Linked DNA regions of Homo sapiens. The protein of the gene in region 6 purifies or fractionates together with the protein of the main gene of each other region. This does not show direct contact. Each region holds a gene or a part of one and is shown on either strand. Other genes may lie near its edges.

Evidence for each region.
Region 1: the proteins of KIAA0408 (region 6) and MAP1A purify together in Homo sapiens (affinity purification with mass spectrometry; one large-scale study listed by BioGRID and IntAct). This does not show direct contact.
Region 2: the proteins of KIAA0408 (region 6) and LPP purify together in Homo sapiens (affinity purification with mass spectrometry; one large-scale study listed by BioGRID and IntAct). This does not show direct contact.
Region 3: the proteins of KIAA0408 (region 6) and DDX49 purify together in Homo sapiens (affinity purification with mass spectrometry; one large-scale study listed by BioGRID and IntAct). This does not show direct contact.
Region 4: the proteins of KIAA0408 (region 6) and RBM6 purify together in Homo sapiens (affinity purification with mass spectrometry; one large-scale study listed by BioGRID and IntAct). This does not show direct contact.
Region 5: the proteins of KIAA0408 (region 6) and PACSIN2 purify together in Homo sapiens (affinity purification with mass spectrometry; one large-scale study listed by BioGRID and IntAct). This does not show direct contact.
Region 7: the proteins of KIAA0408 (region 6) and NOL6 purify together in Homo sapiens (affinity purification with mass spectrometry; one large-scale study listed by BioGRID and IntAct). This does not show direct contact.

The regions. Positions count from the first base shown.
Region 1 is NC_000015.10:43,529,860-43,532,111, reverse strand, and holds the end of MAP1A (microtubule-associated protein 1A), read right to left. Parts: coding exon 2,242-2,252; intron 2,044-2,241; coding exon 1,888-2,043; 3' UTR 501-1,887; downstream 1-500. UniProt on the Homo sapiens protein: Structural protein involved in the filamentous cross-bridging between microtubules and other skeletal elements.
Region 2 is NC_000003.12:188,157,157-188,160,656, forward strand, and holds part of LPP (lipoma-preferred partner), read left to right. Parts: intron 1-3,500. UniProt on the Homo sapiens protein: May play a structural role at sites of cell adhesion in maintaining cell shape and motility. In addition to these structural functions, it may also be implicated in signaling events and activation of gene transcription.
Region 3 is NC_000019.10:18,922,715-18,925,922, reverse strand, and holds part of DDX49 (probable ATP-dependent RNA helicase DDX49), read right to left. Parts: coding exon 3,179-3,208; intron 1,691-3,178; coding exon 1,615-1,690; intron 1,301-1,614; coding exon 1,224-1,300; intron 1,042-1,223; coding exon 944-1,041; intron 1-943. UniProt on the Homo sapiens protein: ATP-dependent RNA helicase that plays a role in various aspects of RNA metabolism including the regulation of mRNA export and the levels of pre-ribosomal RNA. Regulates the stability and synthesis of pre-ribosomal RNA and thereby regulates cell proliferation.
Region 4 is NC_000003.12:50,058,650-50,062,149, reverse strand, and holds part of RBM6 (RNA-binding protein 6), read right to left. Parts: intron 2,502-3,500; coding exon 2,404-2,501; intron 1,350-2,403; coding exon of another isoform or gene 1,268-1,349; exon of another isoform or gene 1,195-1,267; coding exon 1,152-1,194; exon of another isoform or gene 1,151-1,151; intron 1,011-1,150; coding exon 929-1,010; intron 689-928; coding exon 603-688; intron 189-602; coding exon 42-188; intron 1-41. UniProt on the Homo sapiens protein: Specifically binds poly(G) RNA homopolymers in vitro.
Region 5 is NC_000022.11:42,875,650-42,879,149, forward strand, and holds part of PACSIN2 (protein kinase C and casein kinase substrate in neurons protein 2), read right to left. Parts: coding exon 3,399-3,500; intron 1,362-3,398; coding exon 1,239-1,361; intron 685-1,238; coding exon 488-684; intron 1-487.
Region 6 is NC_000006.12:127,449,390-127,452,889, forward strand, and holds part of KIAA0408 (uncharacterized protein KIAA0408), read right to left. Parts: intron 1,929-3,500; exon of another isoform or gene 1,893-1,928; intron 964-1,892; coding exon 601-963; intron 513-600; coding exon 433-512; intron 1-432.
Region 7 is NC_000009.12:33,467,425-33,470,924, forward strand, and holds part of NOL6 (nucleolar protein 6), read right to left. Parts: intron 2,768-3,500; coding exon 2,588-2,767; intron 2,244-2,587; coding exon 2,075-2,243; intron 1,918-2,074; coding exon 1,783-1,917; intron 1,698-1,782; coding exon 1,534-1,697; intron 1,449-1,533; coding exon 1,328-1,448; intron 1,143-1,327; coding exon 1,084-1,142; intron 999-1,083; coding exon 897-998; intron 722-896; coding exon 606-721; intron 512-605; exon of another isoform or gene 445-511; coding exon 267-444; intron 93-266; coding exon 1-92. UniProt on the Homo sapiens protein: Part of the small subunit (SSU) processome, first precursor of the small eukaryotic ribosomal subunit.

The DNA.
Region 1 (2,252 bases), on a different chromosome or scaffold from region 6:
GGGAGGGCTAGAATATGCCCCTCCCCAAATATACACATTCATAACCTGGCCACTTCTGACATACTTAGGACTATAAAGGGTTTCCATGGAGGAGGAAAGTCGACCGTTTTACTCCATGGAAATCCTGACTGCACAAGGAGAGTTGTTTCCAACCTCATTAGGCTCTGGATCTCTTAGGGTCCTTCAGCTTTTTACCCCTTTAGCCCAAGAGGCTGTCCAGGGTAGCTGATCCTGGTTATTTGGTCCTCAACTCTTGACCCCACGGAATGCATATCCCCTTCCCAGGAGGCCTTCTGCCCCTCTTCCCTCCCCCAGACCAGATGTATGTATCCACCCTAGGCTCCTATTCTTCATACTCAGGCACAAGTGTTTCCAGTAATCAAAAGCATTGGAGTCTTCCAAGATAAATTCAATACTGGTTGAAGCAGAGAGGTAGAAGCCAGGGCCCAGTAACTAAGCATGTATGGAGTCAGAAAAAGCCTAAGCAGCACTACACTATCTGCAATGAACTTGGTTTATTGTTAGAGTTGGAGGTGGCTCCGTTACAGCAGCTGGGAACTATAGCAGGGAAGCGTGGGGAGGAGCAGAACACAGCAGCACGGGGAGGGTGGAGCTAGGAAGAACACAAGGTGGGCTCATTTTGGTTTCCCAGTCGTTTGGCAGAGAAGGCAAGCCCACATGACTACCAGCTTCTGGGTTTCTCAGTCTGGCAGTAGTCTGGCAGGGCTGCTCACTGGCTTGCTTGGGGCGAGGTCCTCTCCTGGGGTGGTATTTTCAGCCCGTTTTCATTTCACTCTGTAGGAGTTAAGCTGTGGCTCAGCTTCTCCCTTTTTCCTTCCTCCATCTCATTTTCCCCAAGTCCTCTGGCCTGGCTTCCACCTCCCAGATCCTCTGTCCAAGAGCGGGTTTGGAGAGGCAGCCAGTGTTCCCATTTCAGCTGCAGGATGGCATAGTGGAATGTTGGGGGAGTCACACATTGCTGGGGTGTCAAATGTTGGGATGTCAGGCAGTGGCTTATTTTTAACCCATTAAACACCAAGCCACAGCAGATGACCACATGCAGAGAAGCCAAGCAGGGGATGAGAAGGGATCAGGATAATTGAAATGGGGTGAGTAAAAACTTCAAAGAGTCAGGGAGTTTGGAAGAATTCTGGCATTGGGGCTTGGGCTCTCCTTGCCGTTTTGTGCTGTCTGGACACAGCCCTGGGATGTGAATGGTATAAAGCAGGGTCTGGGGGATAAGCTCCTTTCTCCTCTCACCAGTCTATTGGTCTAAAGAGCTTCAAGTTTTAAATTGAGACATTCAGATACTGAGGGAAGCAGTAGAACAGTATAGCAGTGGGATACCCCCAGGACCCTGCTAGAACTCAGACCCTGGTGGTTGAGGAGATGGGGGATGGGAAATGGAGGAAAGGGTGCAGCTCTGGGCACCTCACTGACGGTATCCTGCCCCAGGTCACATAAATTACTATTGGAAATCCCTCCCAGGATGCCAAATAAATAGATTGAGATAAAGAGGTCCCTGGAGTTGGGGATATAATCTCCCTCTACGAGGGAGGAGGTTGCTCTCTGAGACCCATCCTCAGTCCCCATTCAATACCAGCATTTGACAGTGCTAGGAGAGGGTTCTCAGGCATCAGATGCTATCCTATTCTAATTTGTCCCCTCCCCCATCCTCTCCCTGTTAACTTTGGTTTGAGACACCTCACAGGAATGGATGATGGGGAGGGACAACCCCTCCCATTTAGCCCAGCCCAAGTCCCCACAACAAGACATCTCCCTCCCCTCCCCCTAGCTCCCATCTCCCTCAACCCCAAAGGACTCAGCAGTAGCCATTCTCTAAAGGAGCTGGGGGAGTGGATCCTTGGGGAAGGGAGGGCGGCTCTTTCAGAACTCAATCTTGCAGGCAGGGAAGGACTCATCCTGCATCACCACGGTGCTGCTGCTAGCCAGGACCAGGACATTCAGTTGTTGCTGCTGCTCATGAGTTTGTTGGTACCACTCACGAGTCACCTCCGTGTCATGAGTAGGGATCAGAGTCACCTAGAAGGGAGATAAGATATGTCTGATGTGAGAACATAAAGGGAAGGTAGGTGAGGGGGAAGGGGCACCTCATGGTCTCAGAAGCAGCTCTGCTGCCCTTAGAAAAGGCCCATCCTTTAATAAATAGGGACTGTGTTCCACTACTGCCTCTGAGTGAGCGTTGACCAGACTACTTCCTTGGTGTCCTTTGCTACTCACCTGAAGATTCT
Region 2 (3,500 bases), on a different chromosome or scaffold from region 6:
TATGAATGTACAGTGCTTTGCACTTTATAAAACACTTTCCAATCAGATACTCCATTTGAATCTCAAAGGTCCCCTGAGAATGAGGCCTGCTGCTGCTGTCACCTTTATTTTAACCCTTGCCCAAGGTCATATAGCTAATTAGGGATGTGTTCAAAATTACAACCCAGAACTTTTGCTTCTTGGTGGTGACGTGTGACTTTACCCTGCTGTTGAGCCAGTCTGGGTTAATTGGGAATGGGGCAAGAGTTAGATCGGATTTGATTTCAGAACTATGCTGAAGATGCTGGATGATGGGGATTTTGTACACGGGTAGAGTGTAACTCATAAGAACTGTGTAGCCCCCTTAGCACAGATATTTGCTGCATTAAGCAGAAAAAAGACAGGGAGATAGAAAATGGCAGGTAGCAGGTAAAACCCGGGGTTGGAGCCTGCTTACGGTGAACCAGAAACTGGCTTGGCCCTGAGCGTACAAAGATGAGGTGTACATGGTCCCTGCCTTTGAGGAGCACACAAGTGTGTGGTGTGTGTGAGGGGGAGGGAAAAAGGTGGAGTGGGGCATGTCCGTGTATTAAGTGCTTTTACAGGGTAAGTTTTGGCTGCTCTTCACTGAGAAGGCTCACCCTCAGGGAAACCACTATAGAGAGGGGGGTGTCTGAGCTGAACCTCTAGGAATGAGTAGGAGTTGTCCAGGTGGAAGAAGGACAGGTGAGAGAAGGACCTATTAGCAAGATAGTAGCAGATGCAGAAGCAGGGAGAAGCTGCTTTATTCTCCAGGCTGTGTTTTGAAAGGCCAGCCATGAAGAGGACCATGGAAAATGGAGAAAGAAGAGGGCCTTTACTTTTTAATAAGTAAGGTTTAAATTAATCTCGATAGGGGCCGTTAAGTGGTTCTGTAGAGATTCACAGGAGAATAAGGCTGGGTAGGGTCTCTAGCGTCATCTCTGTGGGAGTAGTTATTTGGATGGTAATGCAGGAGGCATAGTACCACTTTTAGTCTGAGTGAACCTGGGACTTTGACCCTGGGCCGCGATTAGAGGATCCAAGCTGAGTATGTTCATTGGTGGGTGGGACTTTTCCTGGAATCTGGCTTTGGAGGGCTGTGCTTTGCTAGAAGAAACTTAGTAGAGTGAGGAAGGGGAAGATATAATCATGTTGATGCATGCAGGAAGCTAGTATCTGGGTGAAAATCTGTTGGCTTGAGGGAACATATGAGGCGGAGAACCTGAGGGCAAGGGGAAGGGTGGAAGGATTTCAAGTGTGTTGTGGAAGTCTGCTGTAGGCTGCCTGGAGGCTTGGAGAAAAAGGCTGGTGCATTCTAAATGTTGGTCACATCAGTGAGATTGGTAGGTGGATAGGTAGCTGTAGGTAGTGTAGGGATTAATGTTTGGAAGCAGGTAAACCACAGAGTTGAGGCTGGAAAATGTTTCCTTTCCTATCATTCTTTTTTAATAGTAATATAATTTTGAAATATTTTCAAATGCTTACCACCTGTTATGTAATTATCATATTGATTCATTAAAGTAGGTTTTTTGATTACCAGTCTCATTTTGCAGATGAGAAAATGAATTTGGTGAAATAAGGTTACACAACTACCAGGAGGCATTCAAACTTCTGCCTCATTCTTATAGCCTCTTCACCACTCTTTTCTATGCCCACATGCATGAAAAGCTCAAATCGACATTGCTTGTCTGTGTTCTTCCCTGGAATTTAATTCAGCCCACATTCGTGGGGCCCTAGTGGGGTCACAATTGAGGATTCACATGGACAAACGGGCTTCTCAGTCCCACACTGGTGCTGTTCTAGCCCCTTTTTCTCTCTTAAGATGCTACCTTGGGTGTCGTCTCTCCCCAAACCTAACTGGAAAGGACTAAGCCTCTCTAGCAAATCATCTGCCTCTTTCAACAGAGCTCGCTTCCCCAGTCCCTTGTTGTGTTAAGAATGTGATTTATTCTTGTAGAGAGGCAGTTAGGGTCATAAAGTAACAGAGTGGGGAAGTGACAGTCTTGAACTCAGTCATTACCTTTGATCTCACGGCTCCGGTAACGGTGCTATATGTTCTCTGGTGCTGAACCATATAGCTTCTGCGTCCTCTAGGAAAGCTTTCTGGCTCAGGGCTCTGAGGGAACACCTACAATCCTTCCTATCACCTACCTGAGTCAGATGGGTCATCTACATTTTGGCCACTCACAGATAAAAGCATTAATAATCTGTTTATTGTGTTGTGAGAGGAGACAGACCCCAGGATGTTCAGTAGCTGTTTGGTGAATGAACAATGTTTATGGACACAAATAAGCATGCATCACCACTTCATCTTACATATTTGTGTGTCTGCCTCCTCTCCACTTTAAAATAAGCTGCTTGAGGATTGCAGTGATGTCTGCTTGTTGATGGCTGTATTCCCAATGCCCAGAAGAATGCCTGACACATGGTAGGCACTCCAGAAATACTTGCTTGATGAAGAGAGGGAGTAAAATAGTTCACTGCAGCCACAGGATAGCAATCATGGGGGAGCGGGACTGTTTTTACTGCCCCAGAACCTTGAGCCAGTTGTTGCTGGCACAGGTGGCATTGGGCAGTCCTGCCAGCAGAGTGAAGATTGAGGGACTGGGAGTGTAGAGCTGAGGGTTGTGAGATTAACTATGCCAAGGTTAATTGCAGTTGCAACTGCTCTTTCACTTTTCCCTCACACAGACAGGTGGTCTGGAACAGTCCTCTGTTTTCTTCTCTTTTGAGACAGAGTATTTTTTTGTTTGTTTGTTTGGTTTGTTTGTTTTGAGACACAGTCACACTTTGTCACACAAGCTGGAGTGCAGTGGCGCAATCTTGGCTCACTGCAACCTCCACCCCCTGGGTTCAAGTGATTCTCCTGCCTCAGCCTCCCAAGTAGCTGGGATTACAGGTGCCCGCCACCACTCCCGGCTAATTTTTGTATTTTTAATAGAGACGGAGTTTCACCATGTTGGCCAGGCGGTCTTGAACTCCTGACCTCGTGATCCACCTGCCTTGGTCTCCCAAAGTGCTGGGATTACAGGCGTGAGCCACCACGCTCAGCCTTGAGATGGAGTTTTACTCTTGTTGCCCAGGCTGTAGTGCAATGGCCCGATCTCGGCTCACTGCAACCTCCGCCTCCCAGGTTCCAGCGATTCTCCTACCTCAGCCTCCCAAGTAGCTGGGATTACAGGTGCCTGCTGGCACGCCTGGCTAATTTTTGTATTTTTGTGGAGATGGGGTTTCACCATGTTGGCCAGGCTGGTCTTGAACTCCTGACCTCAGGTGATCCGCTGGCCTTGGCCTCCCAAAGTGCTGGGATTACAGGAGTGAACCACTGTGCCCAGCCCTCTGTTTTCTTAATCCATGCCTTTTCTTATGCTGTTTTCTCTACCTGGAGTTTCCAGCCTTTCTGTCTCTGCCTGTTGTAAACCTGTGATTCTAGGATCAATATCAAAATCTACCTTGTGCCATGAAGCAATTTCCAGACTCCTTAACCCTTCCAACCCACA
Region 3 (3,208 bases), on a different chromosome or scaffold from region 6:
AAGGTCCGTGACCCTCATGGCAGCCCCACGAGGACGTCACCATTCTCATTATCCACCATGTGAGGTCTAGGGAGTGGAAGTGACCTGCCCAGCACCACAGGGTCAGGATAGAAGGTCCAGGCCCAGTCCGACCCCAGCAACCACATCTTTCCTGGCTTCAGAACTGACAGCATCTCATGGACACCATGCCCCTCCCTGACGAGGCAGCAGCAAGTAGTGGGGGCCGGAGCTGTGTGTGCACCCTCCCAGGGGGCAGCCCCACACTGCTCAGTTCATCACCTGGCTTGGGTGAAGGCAGCACCTGACTTGCATTTGCTTTATTTTACAATTTTATTTTATTTACTTATTTTAGTTTATTATTATTTTTTGAGACAGAGTCTTACACTGTTGCTCAGGCTGGAGTGCAATTGTGCGATCTCCACTCATTGCAACCTCCGCTTCCCGGGTTCAAGCAATTCTCCTGCCTCAGCCTCCCGAGTAGCTGGGATTACAGGCACCCTCCACCACGCCTGGCTAATTTTTTTGTATTTTTAGTAAGACAGTGTTTCACTATGTTGGCCAGGCTGGTCTCGAACTCCTGACCTCGTGATCCACCCACCTCGGCCTCCCAAAGTGCTAAGATTACAGGCGTGAGCCACCGCACCTGGCCTATTTTATTTTATTTTTTTGGAGACAGAGTTTTGCTCTTTTTGCCCAGGCTGGGGTGCAATAGTGCATTCTCAGCTTGCCGCAACCTCCCGGGTTCAAGTGATCTTCTTGCCTCAGCCTCCCGAGTAGCTGGGATTCACCTTTGCTTTAGAAAGGACAACTCCCCAACTTGCAAACATGGCCCTGAGTAGCTCTCATCTGTGGGCTGCACCCTACCCACGTCCTACCACCTGAATTTGCTGGGCAGGCTGGAGGGACAGAGGCCCAAGGCTCGGCCTCCCCCTCCACTGCTCACCTGCACGGGCCGTCCGGCCGACTCGGTGGATGTAGATCTTGGGGAGCCCGGGGGTGTTGTGGTTGATGACCACCTGTACCGTAGGGATGTCCAGGCCCCTGGAGGCAGAGGTGGCTGGTCAGCTCCACTGTCCATGTGGGGAAACCGAGGCAAGGACTCACCCAGGGTCACTCAGCAGGGATGCTAGGGCTGCCTGACATGCCTGAGGCCAGCCTTCTCATCTGTGGGGCCTTGTAGTAAAAGAGGGAGTGCCCTTGGCAGGAGACTGGGGGCTGCTCACCGGGAGGCCACGTCTGTTGCGATCAGGATCCGGTAGATGCTGGACTTGAACTTGGCTAGGGCGGCAAAGCGTTCTTTCTGCACAGGGTTGGGAAGAAAATTGGGAATGCATGAAGGCAGGGTTTTCTGTGTGAGGCCTCGGGACAGGGTGGAGGCCGGGACAGTCCCCAGCCGTCCATTGAGGAAGGTGGCCATGAGAAGTCAGACCGGGACAAATGAATGACGGCTAAAAGAGATGCGGTCAGGGAGGGCCTCTTGAGCTGCGATATTCTGGGACCAGAAGAGACCAGGTGGCAGGAAGAAGGCGCCCGGCAGAAGGAAGGATCGGGGCCAATGTCTGAGGCGGGGAAGGTATCCCAGGGTGAGGCTGGCGGGCCCCAGGGTGGCCTCACCTGCTTCATCATGGAGTGCAGAGCCACGGTGGGGAAGCTGAATTTGCGCAGCATCATGCACAGAATCTGGCAGGTCCTGGCGGGAAGGATGTGCCTGTCAACCCCTCCAGCTCTCAGGTTCTGGGAAGGTGTTCCTGCCCCCACCCGCCCCTGAGACACCTAGCACAGTGGCCTCATGCAGCTTAGAAAGGAGAGGCAGCAGGCCAGGCACGGTGGCTCATGCCTGTAATCCCAGCACTTTGGGAGACTGAGGCGGGTGGATCACTTGAGGCCAGGAGTTCAAGACCAGCCTGCCCAACATGGCAAAACCCCATCTGTACTAAAAACACAAAAATTAGCCGGGCATGATGGTGTATGACTGTAGCCTCAGCTACTCAGGAGGCTGAGGCAGGAGAATTGTTTGAACCCAGGAGACAGAGGTTGCAGTGAGCCGAGATTGCGCCATTGCACTCCAGCCTGGGGGACAGCGTGAGACTCTCAAAAAAAAAAAAAAAAAAAAGAGGCAGGATGAGGGTTGACAGACGGCTTGCCTGCCTGATGTCCTCTCTGCTGATCCCTCCCTGGAGCTGGAACTGACAAGAGTTGGCCCTGGGACTGCAGGGCTGGAAGGCTGGAAACTGACTTGCTAGGGGTGGTCACTGTTACCAAGAAGGCCAAGAAGGAGCCAGCAGAGGAAAACAGAGGAGAAAGAGGGGCACAGGGAGAAAGGATGGGGACCATCACATAAGCTGCTGGATCCTGCCACGCCTGACAGCCACCCTGCAGCCAAACTTTTCTCTCTTTTTCCCTGAGACAGTCTCACTTTGTCCCCCAGGATGGAGTGCAGTGGCGTGATCTCGGCTCACTGTAACCTCCACCTACCGGGTTCAAGTGATTCTCCCGCCTCACCTTCCCCAGTAGCTGGGACTACAGGTGCTCGCCACCATGCCTGGCTAATTTTTGTATTTTTAGTCGAGATGAAGTTTCACCACGTTGGGCAGGCTGGTCTCGAACTCCTGACCTCAGGTGATCCGCCTACCTCGGCCTCCCAAAGTGCTGGGATTACAGGTGTGAGTCACTGCACCCAGTCCCAACTTTTCTCTTCTGGGAGGTAACGCATTTAAAGCGCCTTGATTTCTGCCCTTCTATCCTGGCTCATGCTGGAAGAGCCTCCAGCTTCTCAATGACCTTCCCAAACAATTCAATGAAGATATGAACTGCCCTCCCCAGGGGTCTCTGTCTGTGCAGACGCACACCAGGCCTGTTAGTTGTCACAACTTCCTCTGAGATGGGACTAAAGGCCCAGGAAAGCTCAGTGACACCCCCAGAACACAGCAAATGGGCTGCTCAAACAGCTGCTTGCAGGGGTTTCCTGGCCCTTCCATCAACGGCTGGGCTGAGGAACCCCAAAGGCCGGCTGCACCTTCAGATTGAGGGACCTTGGCTCCTTGAGGGAAGCCCCCATGACCTCCAGGCTGAGCAGAGGCTGGGGAGTGCTGAGACTGGCTGTGTGTCCCAGACCAAAGACGTCGGGCCACCTCCTCCTTTGAAGGGCGGTGGGAGGGGAGAGGCGGGCCCCGCTCACTTGCACGTGTTGGTGAAGATGATAATGGAC
Region 4 (3,500 bases), on a different chromosome or scaffold from region 6:
AACTATGTGGCAAAAGACAGCAAATTAACAATTCCTCTTACCCTCGTCACTCCTCTGTCTTTTTTCTCCTTGCCATCTCTTTTAGACATTTCCTTCTTGCTACTTGACTTTCCTTGACTGGTGGGTTTTTTTTCCTTGATCTCTTCTTCCTCAGGTAATCCAGGATCCTGGGGCACATAGACTTCTTGCTGCGATACAGTTGGAAACAAGTAAGTCTACAGAATGTTTCAGTTTCCCAGCAATTCCAGGTCTAAGGCGCACAGTTCCCTTTTAGGGGAAGAAACAACTTTTTTACTTACAAGTCTAAGAAGAGTCCACATCAATCTAAAAACCCACTCCAGGGACCAGGACACATTCAGACCACCCACTGTCCACTTTTTCAAGAGCAACACTGTTCTTACCTGTATTGCCACAAGGCACTGATTTTCCATATAGGCAACAGTTCTGTTTCCATAGATCTAAACTTTTCCACTTTTCATGCAATGAGCATCCAGAGAATCCAGGGAATAAAATCCTCAAGTAGCAAATTATGGGTGCTTTTCTCAAAAGAATCATTGACAGAGGTAAAAAAAAAAAAAAAAAAAAAAAAGCCCCAAACTCACCTGGGTATTGGGGTCATAATAAGTTCCTGCCAAGGGGTCATAATAGTAGCCAGTAGCAGAATCATATATGTAGCAGTCAGATGATGCTAAAGGTAACAAGATCAGAGCCAATGTTAGTCTCTGTCCAATGAAGCCCTTACTGGAGACTCATCAAGAACCCAAGAATTAGGGTGACCAACACAAATAGGTGCATCTACAGATGCCTCTCTCTGGATGAGCACCCTCAGTCAACAGTGTATCTTGCCAACTGTGATCACACAGATGTCAAGTAATGAGTAGCAAGTCAAGCAAAAAAGAGCAACAGAAATAAAACAAAGGTTACTTACACTGTTGTCCTTGTCGATTTGTATCTGAAGACCAGTCTGAATTTCTGCCACCTCCCCTCCTATCTCGGAAATATTTTTTACCCTATCACAGAAAGGCAAGTTAAAATTACAGAACTATCCAATGGTCATTCACCTTAACAGTCACCCACTAAAGAAAATTCAAGATCACCCTTATAGTCACCTGAGGATTTTAATAGAGCACTCCCCACCTGTTACAGCCTACCTGATAGTAATGCATGTGGTCAGAATGGTCCCCAGAATCATTTCTGCAACAGATAACACAACAATTCTTAAGGCTGCTACCAAGTGGCATTTGACGAGTACTTAATCCTACAGTTCCTATCGAGAAATCCTCTGTTCCTCATTTTGCAGGGAAAGGAACCAACCTAGACAGCAAGCAGGTTGGGTGGTCCAGACACTCCTGAAAGAATGAGCAGTAAGACTCTTTTTTTTTTTTTTTTTTTTTTTGAGACGGAGTCTTGCTCTGTCGCCCAGGCTGGAGTGCGGTGGCGTGATCTCAGCTCACTGCAAGCTCCGCCTCCTGGGTTCACACCATTCTCCTGCCTCAGCCTCCCAAGTAGCTGGGACTACAGGTGCCCACCACCACGCCCAGCTAATTTTTTTTTTTTTGTATTTTTAGTAGAGACGGGGTTTTACCGTGTTAGCCAGGATGATCTCAATCTCCTGACCTCATGATCTGCCCGCCTCGGCCTCCCCAGGTGCTGAGATTACAGGCGTGAGCCACCACGCCTGCCCAATGAGCAGTAAGACTCTTACAAAGCCAAGTGGTGGAGCAAAACAGCCATTAAGTGGAGGGTGCTAGAGCAAGATATGCCCCATATTGGTAAGCCTGTTTCTCTGACATGGCCATTTCCAAGTTACCACTCCTGGGTCAAGATGAGTGAAGGAGGAAAGAGAAATTAGATTTCCCAGTGCTATGGAAATATGCACAAGGTCAGGGGAAGGAAAAGCCAGGACAGCATTTTCCTAGGATTGCAAGGGGCAAGAATGTATTGACATGTGTCTGCACATCCAAAACTGTACCATCATTTTTTTGTTAAGAGATAGGGTCTTGCTGTGTTGCCCAGGGTAGAGTACAGTGGTTATTCACAGGCATCTTCATTGCACACTATGGCCTAGAACTCCTGGGCTCATGTAACCCGCTCCCCATCTCGCCTCAGCCTCTTTAGTAGCTTGGAATAGAGATATGTGCTACCACGCCAGGCCATTTGGGACCCAAAGATACCAGACAGTCAAAAGGGAAAGGACAAAAGTACCTAGTATTATTCAAGAAAGAAAACAATTCGAGAGTCAGGACAAGTCAGGCTTCAGAAAGAAACTGTAATAAACACCTATCTGAAGCAGTCCATGTTAGGAAAACATCATGCTTTACTGTTTTTCCAGCCAGGAAAAGGAGTTTCCTCTCAAAAACACAAGTGGGGGCAGCACAAGAGATCCTCACCCTTCTGCCTTACCTTCGTTTTCCAGTGGCCAGGTTTACAGCTACCATCTTCCCATCAATGCTAAATGGCGGATCAAGGTTCTGTAAGATCTTCACCACACGAAGAGCTTCCTATAGAACCAGACACACTTGAACCCAGAGACAGAAAATGCCAGAACCCAAAGACAGAAAAATTCTCCTTTGAAAGAGAAGTGAACGTGGATTTTCCTTCTCAGAGGATAAATTTACTACATTATATTCTGTCAAAATTTTAACAGTAAGAGCATACTGGCAGAAACAGGCAACTTTTAATGAAGGACTGATTGGAACAGGAATCAGAATAGATGTCAGTTCTGGCATAAACTTCAGAAATTCAAATCCTCTTCTTTTAGGTTGCAATTATCATCAATCAGATTCAGTTTACAAAGTCCCTTGTGACTTTTGAGCATGAAAAATCTAAGAAATACCAATGACTTTCATTATCTTCACCTTACTTCCATAGAAAAAGGCCCCGCAACTAAAAATTTAAGCCACAGGAATCTATAAATACTTTGAGGAAAAAGAGGAAATGTTTTATCATCAAATATAAAACCATCTGTGGCTGGACAAAATAAATCAGAAAGTTCACTAAAATCATGAAGGATTCAGTACTCAGATTCTTCACAAGCGAGTAAGTTGGAAACAGTAAATGACACAAGAAAAAAATGAACCTAGAAAACCAGACGGGATCCTAACTTTTGAGGGCTGTCACCTGACCTGAATGAACAATAAACCCAAAGGAGAGAGCAAGAGGGATTATGATATCAGGTAGCACACAAGAATTCAAATGATCAAGAAGTCCCTCAAATTTTTTTTTTTTTTTTTTGAGACAGAGTCTCGCTCTGTCACCCAGGCTGAAGTGCAGTGGCGCGATCTCGGCTCACTGCAAGCTCCGCCTCCGGAGTTCACGCCATTCTCCTGCCTCAGCCTCCCGAGTAGCTGCGACTACAGGCGCCTGCCACCACGCCCAGCTAATTTTTCTGTATTTTTTAGTAGAGACAGGGTTTCACCGTGTTAGCCAGGATGGTCTTGATTTCCTGACCTCGTGATCCACCCACCTCGGCCTCCCAAAGTGCTGGGATTACAGGCGTA
Region 5 (3,500 bases), on a different chromosome or scaffold from region 6:
CGCAGCCTCCTGAGTAACTGTGATTATAGATGCCCCGCCACACGCCTGGCTCATTTTTGTATTTTTAGTAGAGACAGGGTTTCACCATGTTGGTTAGGCTGGGCTCGAACTCCTGACCTCAAGTGATCTGCCTGCCTTGGCCTCCCAAAGGTGCTGGGATTACAGGCGTGAGCCACCATGCCTGGCCTAATTTTTTGTATTTTTTGTAGAGACAGGTTTTGCCATTTTGCCCAGGTTGGTCTCATACTCCTGGGCTCAAGCGATCCTTCCACCTCGGCCTCCCAAAGCTCTGGGACTATAGGCATGAGCCACCACATCCAGCCAATTGGCTGCTTTTGACAATGAAGCCAGGGCACTGGGGAAGGGCCTGCAGTGACTCACAAGTGAAACTAGCAAGAACTTTTCCAGACTTAAAAAACAAAAAAGACCGCCCACAGCCTGCAGGTTGGAAGCCCTCCTCCCCTGGATGCTGGGGGAGCCCACCTACCAGCCTTGAAGCTCAGCTCATCATGCTCCTGCCCCTCATAGTCATACAGGGCCCGGACTCGCACTTCCGTCCCCGAGGTGGCGTCGTCGTCGAATGGATTCGAGTCCCCATTGGCATCCGTGGAGGAGAAGGGGTTGTTAGACTCATCGTCTGACCAGTCGGTGGGATAGCTCTGGGTCTTCTCGTAGCTGCTCACACTGCAAGAAAGGGGAGGCCACAGGGCCCTCAGCACAGGGCGGCAGAGGGTGTGAGGCCCCCGCCCCGCAAGGGGAGGGCACTGGAGCCTTGGGGCTCAGGGCTGAGGGCTCCTTCCGAAGGAGCACAGGTGGAGCCAGTGCTAGTGTGAGTTCATGCCATCCACACTCATCCTGAGCCATCAACAGGCTTTCCAGGGGCAGGCGGCTGGAGATGCCCACAGCAGAGGCCAACCTGGGGCCTCACTCTCTAGTCCCCAGCACAGACTGCGCGTTGTCTGTTTTCCTGTCATGGTGCTGCTAGGGCCTTGAAGGGTTAACAGAGGACAGAGAAAAAGCAACTTAAGATTGTTAGCTGTGCCCTCCCCGAGGAATGGGGGTGCCAGAGAGCCTGTGCCAGAGAGCAGGTAGTGGGCCAGGGTGCGGCACGCCAGGTGCCCACTTCCTGCAGAGCTCCGTGCATTGCCGAGTGCCGAGGGGTGAGACCCCTGGACAGAGAGAGAGGAAGAGAGACAGAGTGAGCGCGGTGGGAGCAGAGGAAGCATTTGTTCACCAACTTTTTGGCCTTAGTGTCGTCCTTCTCACTGACGGTGCTGCCCGTGTCGTCCTCATCCTCGAAGGGGTTGTAGCTGGACTGTGACTGCGCAGACTGGGCGGGGTTGCTCGGGACATTAAGGGTGCTATGGAGAGAGAGAGCTTTCAGGGGATCCCAGCTCTGCAGGGGCCCGTGAGGGTCCTGGCAACTCCTAGCTGCAGGATCTCAAGAGACAAATCAGCTCCTCCTGTGACCGGAGGGGACCGTGGTGTTTCAACAGAAAGGTTACTATGGCAGAATGCGGGCAATACTTCAGCTGTGAAACACGGTCCAGGAGCCTAGGAGAGGACTTGGTTTCCCTTTTCCTTCCTTGCACCTGGAGACAGTCCGTCCAGAACAGGGGCCCTGGGGTGGCCCAGGGGCGGGTGACAAGCCACAGCTGGAGCAAAAGTCGTTTCCAGGTTCAGGGCTTCTCCTCTGTCCTGACTCCCACCAATGTGAGCTGGGGGGGTCAAAAAGCCCCTCAGGGTCTCCTCTGAGAGTGACAGTGTGGGAGGGGCCGGCTCCCATGGATGAGTGGGAGAGGGCTCTGAGCTCTTCAGCCCACACGGCCTCCTCCTGACTACTAAGGGGTTCAGGGCTCGCTCTTCTGCTCTGTGGAGCTGAAGCCTCCAAAATCAGGGCCAGGGCCTGCGGCACCGTCTTTTCTAGATAGAAAGAAGATTCCTTTGGTGCTCCAGAGGGAAAATCCAGTCGTGCAACTGCCTACTGTTTGCCAGGCCCAGTGTGGGAACCAGAGAGATCTGGGCCAAGCTCTGCCTGAGGGCTGGGAGCCGGGAGCTGAGTTACACACTACGAAGACCACAGGCAGACCATCAAGCAATCCAATCAGACAGGCACCAAGGGCCCTGGCACCCCACCAAGTAACTGATCCTAGGACCGGGCTACCCTGGCCAGCAGCACCTTCTACTTCCAAGACCAGGGCCTCAGGGCACAGGCCCCCAAAGCACTGGATGGACTGCTCAGCCTGAGCACCCACCACCCCAGAACCAAGGAAGGGAGGCGAGGACATGCCTCCAATGCCACCAGGGTGATCCTGAGTGGCCAGTAACTGCCTCATCCACTTCAGCCTGGCAAGTGGTACTTGACCTAGGCCTGCTGGAGGCCAATATCCAGGCCACATGTCTGAGCTCACCGGCCCTCCTCCCTCCTTGGCACCTTTCTCTAGCAGACTGTTGTGAGACGGCACTGGTGGGGGCGGCTGGATTGTGCAGCAACCCTGGCCAGCCCAGGGCCCCCAGGGTCTCCTCTGAGGCAGTGTTTCTTCTTTCCCATTCCCACCCCCAAGCATACAGGTGCTGGCCTGATCCCTGGGACAGGCACTTACTGCCGAGCCCACCTGCCCAGACAGCGTGCAAAGCAGCGGAATGACGACAGCCACACCTGCTGGGGAGCCTGGGTGGGGGCTTCAGTGCCTGGGGCTGCAGGAAGGCCAAGGGAACCTGGGCTAAGCCTTCTTAGGAAGCCCCCGTATGAAATGACTATTACTGAGTGTCACATGGAGGCCTGTGGGCAGGTCCTATAGGAAGACCTCCTCTAGCACACACTTTCCAGAAGGTTCTAATGACCACAGTGCCACCCTTATATCTCTCATTTTCAGCCAATGACTAAGTCAGAAATAACCAATGCTCCTAGTGAAGAGGTAATTTGGAAAGGAGATGCCTGGCAGTCCTCTCCTGTCCCTCCCTCGACTGGCGCCTGCACACAATACAGAGTGAGCATGAACCTCGGCAGGACCTCAGCTGCCTGAGGGAACCAGGGTGGCACCTCCACCAGTGTCCGGGCAGGGCGGTGCTATCCCTGGGGACATGAATGCCAGCCCTGTCATCAGCTCCTCCCCACTCAGGTCTGAAGCTCAGGGCCAAGCCTCCCTCTCTGGATCTGTCAGCAGCTCTGGCACCAGGCAGGAAGACGACCTTCCCTGGAGATGCCCCTGGGCCACGGCCCACAGAGCTCAGGAGCCCAGGAACCTCCCAGGTGTCCAGGCTGGGCCACGGCCCACAGAGCTCAGGAGCCCAGGAACCTCCCAGGTGTCCAGGCCGGGGCTGCCCTGGACCATGCAGATTGCCCAGGGCCCCCACCATGGAACGGCCTCTTTTGGATGGAGGTGGCGCCCACTCACCTGCTGGGCTTACTCGGCAGAGACTGGTCGCCTGTCTGGTTGATGCCCGTCAGGGTGACGCCGTCAGTGGCCTTCTTCTTCTCTCTCCGGCTGAGGGTTCGA
Region 6 (3,500 bases):
CTGTAATCCCAGCACTTTGGGAGGCTGAGGCAGGGGGATTATTTGAGGTCAGGAGTTCGAGACCATGCTGGCCAACATGGTGAAATCCCGTCTCTACTAAAAATACAAAAAAACTAGCTGGGCGTGGTGGTGTGTGCCTGTAGTCCCAGCTACTTGGGAGACTGAGGTAGGAGAATCGCTTGAACCTGGGAGGCAGAGGCTGCAGTGAGCCAAGATCATGCCACTGCTTTCCAGCCTTGGAGACAGAGCAAGATAACATCTCAAAAACAAACGAGCAAACAAAAAATTAAAGTTTCTATCTCCCACCCTAGATAGTACATTTTAATAACTCATTAGTTCTTACATGTAAGGAGGAGGCAGTTTGGAGTCATTAACTAAAAACAATATTATTTTTTATTTACCCATCTAAAATAATCAGATGTACCAGCCTACCTTCTATGGTTAGACCGCTTTCGAATTTCCTCTTGAAAGCTGCATAATTCTTCACTCACCTTCGCAAGTTCTTCAAGAGCCTTTACACATATAAGCAACAGCCCGTTAGCACTTTGAAATGTAAATATTTCTTTAGAAACAGTTCTAGGCCAATCACATCTTACTTACTGTACTGAGGGCGCCAGAACAGCTCTTGCTGTCTTCCTCAGAAGTCCTCAGGTCAGGCCAGGCCTCACATTCCTTTTGGTTGTCTGTAGCCAAAGGATCCAAAAACCCTACTTTTGATTTTTTTGTTGCTTTTTGTTCCTTACACATTTGATTTCCTCCACTGACTAAGCTCTGCTCTCTTTTATTTTCTTTTCTCAGACCATCTTTGTGATTCGTCCTTATAAATTCACTTTGTCCTAAATCGGGGTAATTTGGGGAAGATTCTATCACTTTCTCTGGAATGGTCTTCTCATGGTAAAGATCAATGATCTTAGCACTTTCATTGATATTGATTTTCCTCCAAAGCTTTACTTCCCGGCAAAGCTGTAAGAAAAACAAAACAAAATTAAAACTTCTTTTCCCCTAATTCACTTTGCTAATATTCTTGATACTAAGCAAACCGCTTTGAGTTCTCTTTGCCATATTAAAATATACTTCCTGGGTATTAATGCTTCGGCCTCCAAATAGTGCCTCTAAAATATGGATTAGCTGGAACAAGTTTGATGAAACATAAAGGCTACTTTTAGTAGGGCAACACATGGATGCTAATTCTTTTGACTAGCAATCAATCATTCAAAAATAAAATAAATCTGTATCTGTATATAAATACAGAAACACTGTCACAAAATTAGAATGACCTGAATCAATTACTGGCCATATTATATAATTGCTTTCAGAGAGATGCAAGAATTTAACATTAAAGTCATAGTTTTCAAATGTCTGGTCCTACTTGTACACTAACATTTAACTGTCTAAATGCTTGACAATCTCAGATAGTAAGTCAACTTATTCTTGTTCCCTAAACAGTCACTTGTCAGTCAAAAGATGTTTCCTTTGGTTGGTCAATTACATTGTGAGGGCTAGATATTACTGAGATTTTTAAAAAATCTCAAAGTGATACACATTTTTAAAATATTTCTCATCCAGATTAAAACAAATATGACAATACCCTACGTGATATAATAGAACTGCAAGGCTTTGATCATCTATTAGTCTGTATTAAGGTAGAATCCAGATTACTTCTTTATGAGATCTTAGTTGAACCTGCACACACTCATTCAGTTCACTTCTGAATAGAGGAAAGAAATGGCTTTCTCTTTAGGCTTGGGTCATGTAAAAGCTTGTCAAACTTCAAAAGAGACTGTCAGATGACTATCAAAGCAAATGACTCTATGTTTAACAGCCGCAATCAATATCTACACTACATGTATTATTCAAGTAATATAATAGATTTATTGCTGCTTAATACATACCGATAACTCAGTTGAGAGAAGCACTAGAGTTGATGCCTGAAAAATATACAGTGTATTTATTTTTCTAATGCTTACAAATGTATTAGTATTTATTGTATGAAGTCAGGATAGCATCAAACTGCAGCCATGAATTGATTGTTTGGTCCCTGCCAAATTATTTGTACTGAACTTCTGCGGGCATTATGGTTTGAGCTGACCTTGAGGGATATAAGAAGGAACCCTAAAAAGTGACATGTTAAATCTAAGGATGCTCTTGGTGACACTGTCCTGTTTTTGCGAAGTCATGAGTGAAAACAAAATTGCTTTAGTTGCAAAACCGGGAAAAATGTGCTATTCCTGGGAAATAAGTTTGCCTTATCATTTGAATTTGAAGGTATATGCACCTGATAATTTTTGTTAGTTACTAGAAAGACTCACTGGTACATTTCATATATGATCCTTCCTCCTGTCTTCAGCTCATCTTTCCATTTTTGTTTTTGCATATTTTATATCATACCTAATTTTATGCCATCTTAAATTTTCTTGATTTAGGTGAGGTATGAATCAACAAATAACAATGTTATTGATGGAAAACTATTTTGTACAAAGGTACTATGTTACTTGGTACTCAGCCCTTGTCAATGGTTATCTGATTATTCTACCAAAGGATACAGGCAGGAGACTACAGTGTGGAAAAAAACAAAACAAAACCCCAGACGTCTATAAGTTCTATCCAGAATTTCTATCTGGATTATTTCAAATTTCAAATGATCCAAGTATGAACATCTTGGTTTTGCCATAGCAAATGCAATGACTGTGGATAGTGGCTGAACAGGGAACTACGAGCATCTTAATAGCCAACACTGCATCCTCTCATTAGATATTATCACTTAAAGTCACTGAAGATATATGTGCATACCTGGGAATCTACAGTTCTCTAGTACATGGCTTAATAATTTACATCTGATTTAACATACAGAACTTTGTGATAAATGTTAAACAAATACAATCTTTTATGCTTGTGGCATGAGATTATTTTTCCAAGTGTTGATTTCTTAATTTTAGTTTAGTTATGGAGCTGTATAGCACAGGCAGCAAAACATAAACAGCAGTACAGCTACTCTCCAAGATAAAAAAATATGACAGCCCGTTTGTCTCTCTGATACAGAAAGGGATGTTATCTCTATGAGGTATAATTTGATGTTTAAAGCATATTTCATGCCTGCTAATTGATAAAGCTAATATTTACCATAGATGAACTCTATAGAATTGTCAGAATAATTATTGGACAGTAATAAATTTAATCAGACAGCAGCTTCTTTTAACTACATGGCTTTAAAAAATTGGCTAGACTAATCCTGCATCCCTTAGTTATTTTGCTTGGATGCTAGAATTGTCTGAGACTGTTATGAACTGAACTTCCCAAACATTTGGAAGGCAATGACCTAGGACTACAGGTCAGTTTCTGATTGCGCTGGAGTTTTGGATTCTGATTTGACCAGGGAATCTCTTTGTTGATCCAATCCGAGTATGGGTAGAGGGGTTAAAGGAGCAAGCAGGACACATTTTCTAAACTATAGAGGGACAAGAAGTATATATTCTCCTTTAATCCCTAATCATACACCACAT
Region 7 (3,500 bases), on a different chromosome or scaffold from region 6:
AGGACGCTGGTCAGTCCCTCAGGCCGGAGAAGGAGTCCCAGGGTCAGGGTCCCAGAGTCTTTGTGCTTTGGTGGATCTTGGCTGATGTCCCACTGCAGGATTTCAAAAGGCTGAGCTCAGTCCTCCAATCCTCCAGCCTGGCCTAGAAACCTACTTTCTAGCTAGCTAGAAACGCCTAGCTGGAGGAATGGTGTGTCCTTTGTGTCTCTTGGGACCCTGGATCCAGCCCAACTCAGACCCAAACTCCCCAACCTACACCACCTCACCTCTGGGACTGGGGGTCGAGAGTGAGCCAGCAGGTTCAGCCGAGCCCCCAGGCCCTGCTCCAGGAGGGTGGTCAGGGGGCCCAAAGCAGCTGAGACATAGTCCCCACCATTGTCCTGCAGCTCTGGCCAGAGCTTCAGCCGGTGGCACGCTGCCTGCAGGCGACTCAGTGGACGGAGACTGGAGGGGTACAAAGGGCCAAAGAGGGGTAATCAGGTTGCTGGCCCCTAGTACCACCTCCTCCCTGAATGATCTGAGCACCTGTCTGAAGACCTTTGCCCCACCACTGTAGCCCCGAAGAGACAGGACCCGCCAACATACCCTGTCACCCCTAAACTCACTGCAGGACATGGTCAAAAGCCCGGATCATGGGTTTGGGAGTCATCAACAGCAGGTGGAACCCGTCGTCAGCTCTGCTGTCCAGCAACATCATAGACAGCCGTGCCTCATGCTGTACCTGGAGCCACAGAAGGGACCATCCCTGTGCCCTTCATTGATCCAAGGGCTTAGACCAGGAGACATGCCCTAAACTTAACTCTTTGAAGAGGAGTTTCTGGGGTTCTGGTACTTGCAAAAGGGACAGAGTCTGGGCTGAGACATCAGGGGAACACAGATTGGGGGCCCATTGGTACCTGGTGGTAAGTAGAGGCAGTGACATCAGCACAGAGGTTGAGATGGCCTGAGGAATCCAGGAAGACAACGGAGAAGGCCTGGTGGAAGTCAGCCAGGGCCGGCTTGGGGGGTGTAGAGAGAAGCAGGTCAGGATTGGCACCTTACTTGCAGGCCTCCTGGCATAGACCTGGCCCTTCCCCAACTCACCAAAGAGGGATCTGAGCTGAGACATAAACTGATCCCGTTGACTGTCAGGTCTGTAGTGGCTGAAGTGAATCACAAGTGTATTAGAAGGTATCCCCTTCTGGGGACCCAGCCCTAATGACACCCTCCCTCAGCCGATTCAGTTTGCTCATCTGTCTGATGGCAAAACACCAAAAGACTGCTACTGGGATGAGAGGATTCCCAGGAGGAGTGGAGCCCCTGGCCTTTCCCCACCTAGTTGCCTCACCCAGAAACTGCAAGACACTTCTCAGGACCTGGTAGCCACTCATGGTGGTATGGATCTTGCGTGTAGACACAAGGAAGACAACCAGCATGGAGACAAGGAACCCAGTAAACCCACCCTGGCCCTGAAAGAGACAGGGAGAGGCTGAGGTCAGAGCCTGCCCATCACACAGGCGCTCAGGTAGGGAGGCTGCGCCACCCCCAACTCACCTTGTCCAGCTCCCGCTGCCGCAGCCAGACCTTCAGAAGTGCCACGCCATCCTTCAGGCCCTGGGCTGAACTCAGAATGGTTGACAGCAGCTGCAAATGGGACTCGAGAACTGTATCTTGCAGGACCCATGTGTTATAGCGGGGGGTAGGAGGCTCTGGGCTACCTGTGGGATGAAAAGGGAAGCCATGAGAGGAAAAGTCCCCACACCTCTTCCCTCCAGCTCCACCTCAACACCAGGGCCTGCTCACCATCCCCTGCAGGACTCTGCCCTCGGTACCAGGCAGAGCGCACATTGTTCTTGGTTGGCAGCAAGCGGCACGGGCGGAAGAAGTCAGGTGGAGGGCACGGATGCAGACGTACAGTGACCAGGCGCTCATCCTTTCCTGCCAGAGACAGTGAGTGCTGAGACTCTGCAGGAGCCCTTGGAGCCAGAGGGCTCCCCATCCTGTCCCCCCATACTTGAGGCCTCCGTGCCTCTGTGCCTTCTCCTCCAGATTTACCATCCCATGCTATGCCCTCAGCCCAATGTGTGCCTCTCACCACGCGGCCGCAGCAACAGTGAGGGTTTCAGGTGGCAGCCATTTGTGTAGGAGAAGCAAACACTGCCAAAGAGGGGGTCCTGGGCCAGGTGGTGAGCCAAGTGGGCCAGGTAGAGGGCACGCTTGCGGAAGTAGCGCTGGTTCAGCCCGTCCTTGTCCTGTAGGATTTCCTGGAGGGGCCAGGGGAGAAGAGAAGGCCAGGCACATAAGTGCTTGTGGAGCTGTGGGCCAAGGTGAAACCAAGGTGAGAGAGCCAGGGCTCCTCTGCTGACAGAAGTGCCTGAGCCACGGTTAGCAACACTAGGCCCAGTTCTCATATCTGGAGAGCAAAGCTCCAAAAGGACAGCAACTGGCCCGAGGGATCTAAGCTGCCTTCAGGATGCCTGCAATGGTCTGCTCTTCTGATTTAGAATTCTGACTTCAATCCCCTGGCAAGCGGCAGATAAGAAAGAGGGATCCAGGATTTGTAGGTAGTCAGGTGGTGGGCCTCTATCCCCTAAACCCTGGACCTTACCCTGGGCATGGTCAGTGCCACATCCACATTGATGTCTGGTCGGATGCAGGTGCCCAGAAGGTAGCTGCCCACAACAGTAACCTGGGCTGGGGGCAGGAAGCGGAAACAGCCCTTCACGGCATAGGGCACTTGGTGGAGGGGCACTCGAACCCCAGCTGGGAGCCATGCCTGGTCAGTGAGCTGTGGGGGCAGAGACAGGGACACATACTGATTCAACTGCCTTCCTCACATGTACCCTTTATGTCTAGAAGACATTTTAACACATCGATATGTTTGAAACCAAACTCCCAATCTTCCCATAACTATGTCTTCCTTGCTAAGACAACTCCATATGAGTTGCTCAAGCCAAAACCACTTAAATCACCTTAACTTAGCTCTGTTAAGAATACCCATTTTACGAGCCGGGCGTGGTGGCTCACGCCTGTAATCCCAGCACTTTGGGAGGCCGAGGTGGGCGGATCACGAGGTCAGAAGATCGAGACCATCCTGGCTAACACGGTGAAACCCCGTCTCTACAAAAATAATTAGCCGGGCATGGCGGCGTGCGCCTGTAGTCCCAGCTGCTGGGGAGGCTGAGGCAGAAGAATGGCGTGAACCCGGAAGGCGGAGCATGCAGTGAGCCGAGATCGCACCACTGCACTACAGCCTGGGGAACAGAGCAAGACTCTGTCTCAAAAAAAAAAAGAATACCCATTTTACTACCAAAATGTATTCAGAAATGGATCACTTCTCTAAAAAGAAAACTTTTTTAAAACAGAGAGAGGAAAAGATTTAAAAAAAAAAAAAAAAAAGAAAGAAATGGATCACTTCACTACTTTCCTCCCTAGTTTGAGGAGCCACCATTTCTCAGTGCCTAGACTAGTTCCTAACTGGTCTCTCTAATCTCATCATTGTCCCTCTCGATTCTACTTTT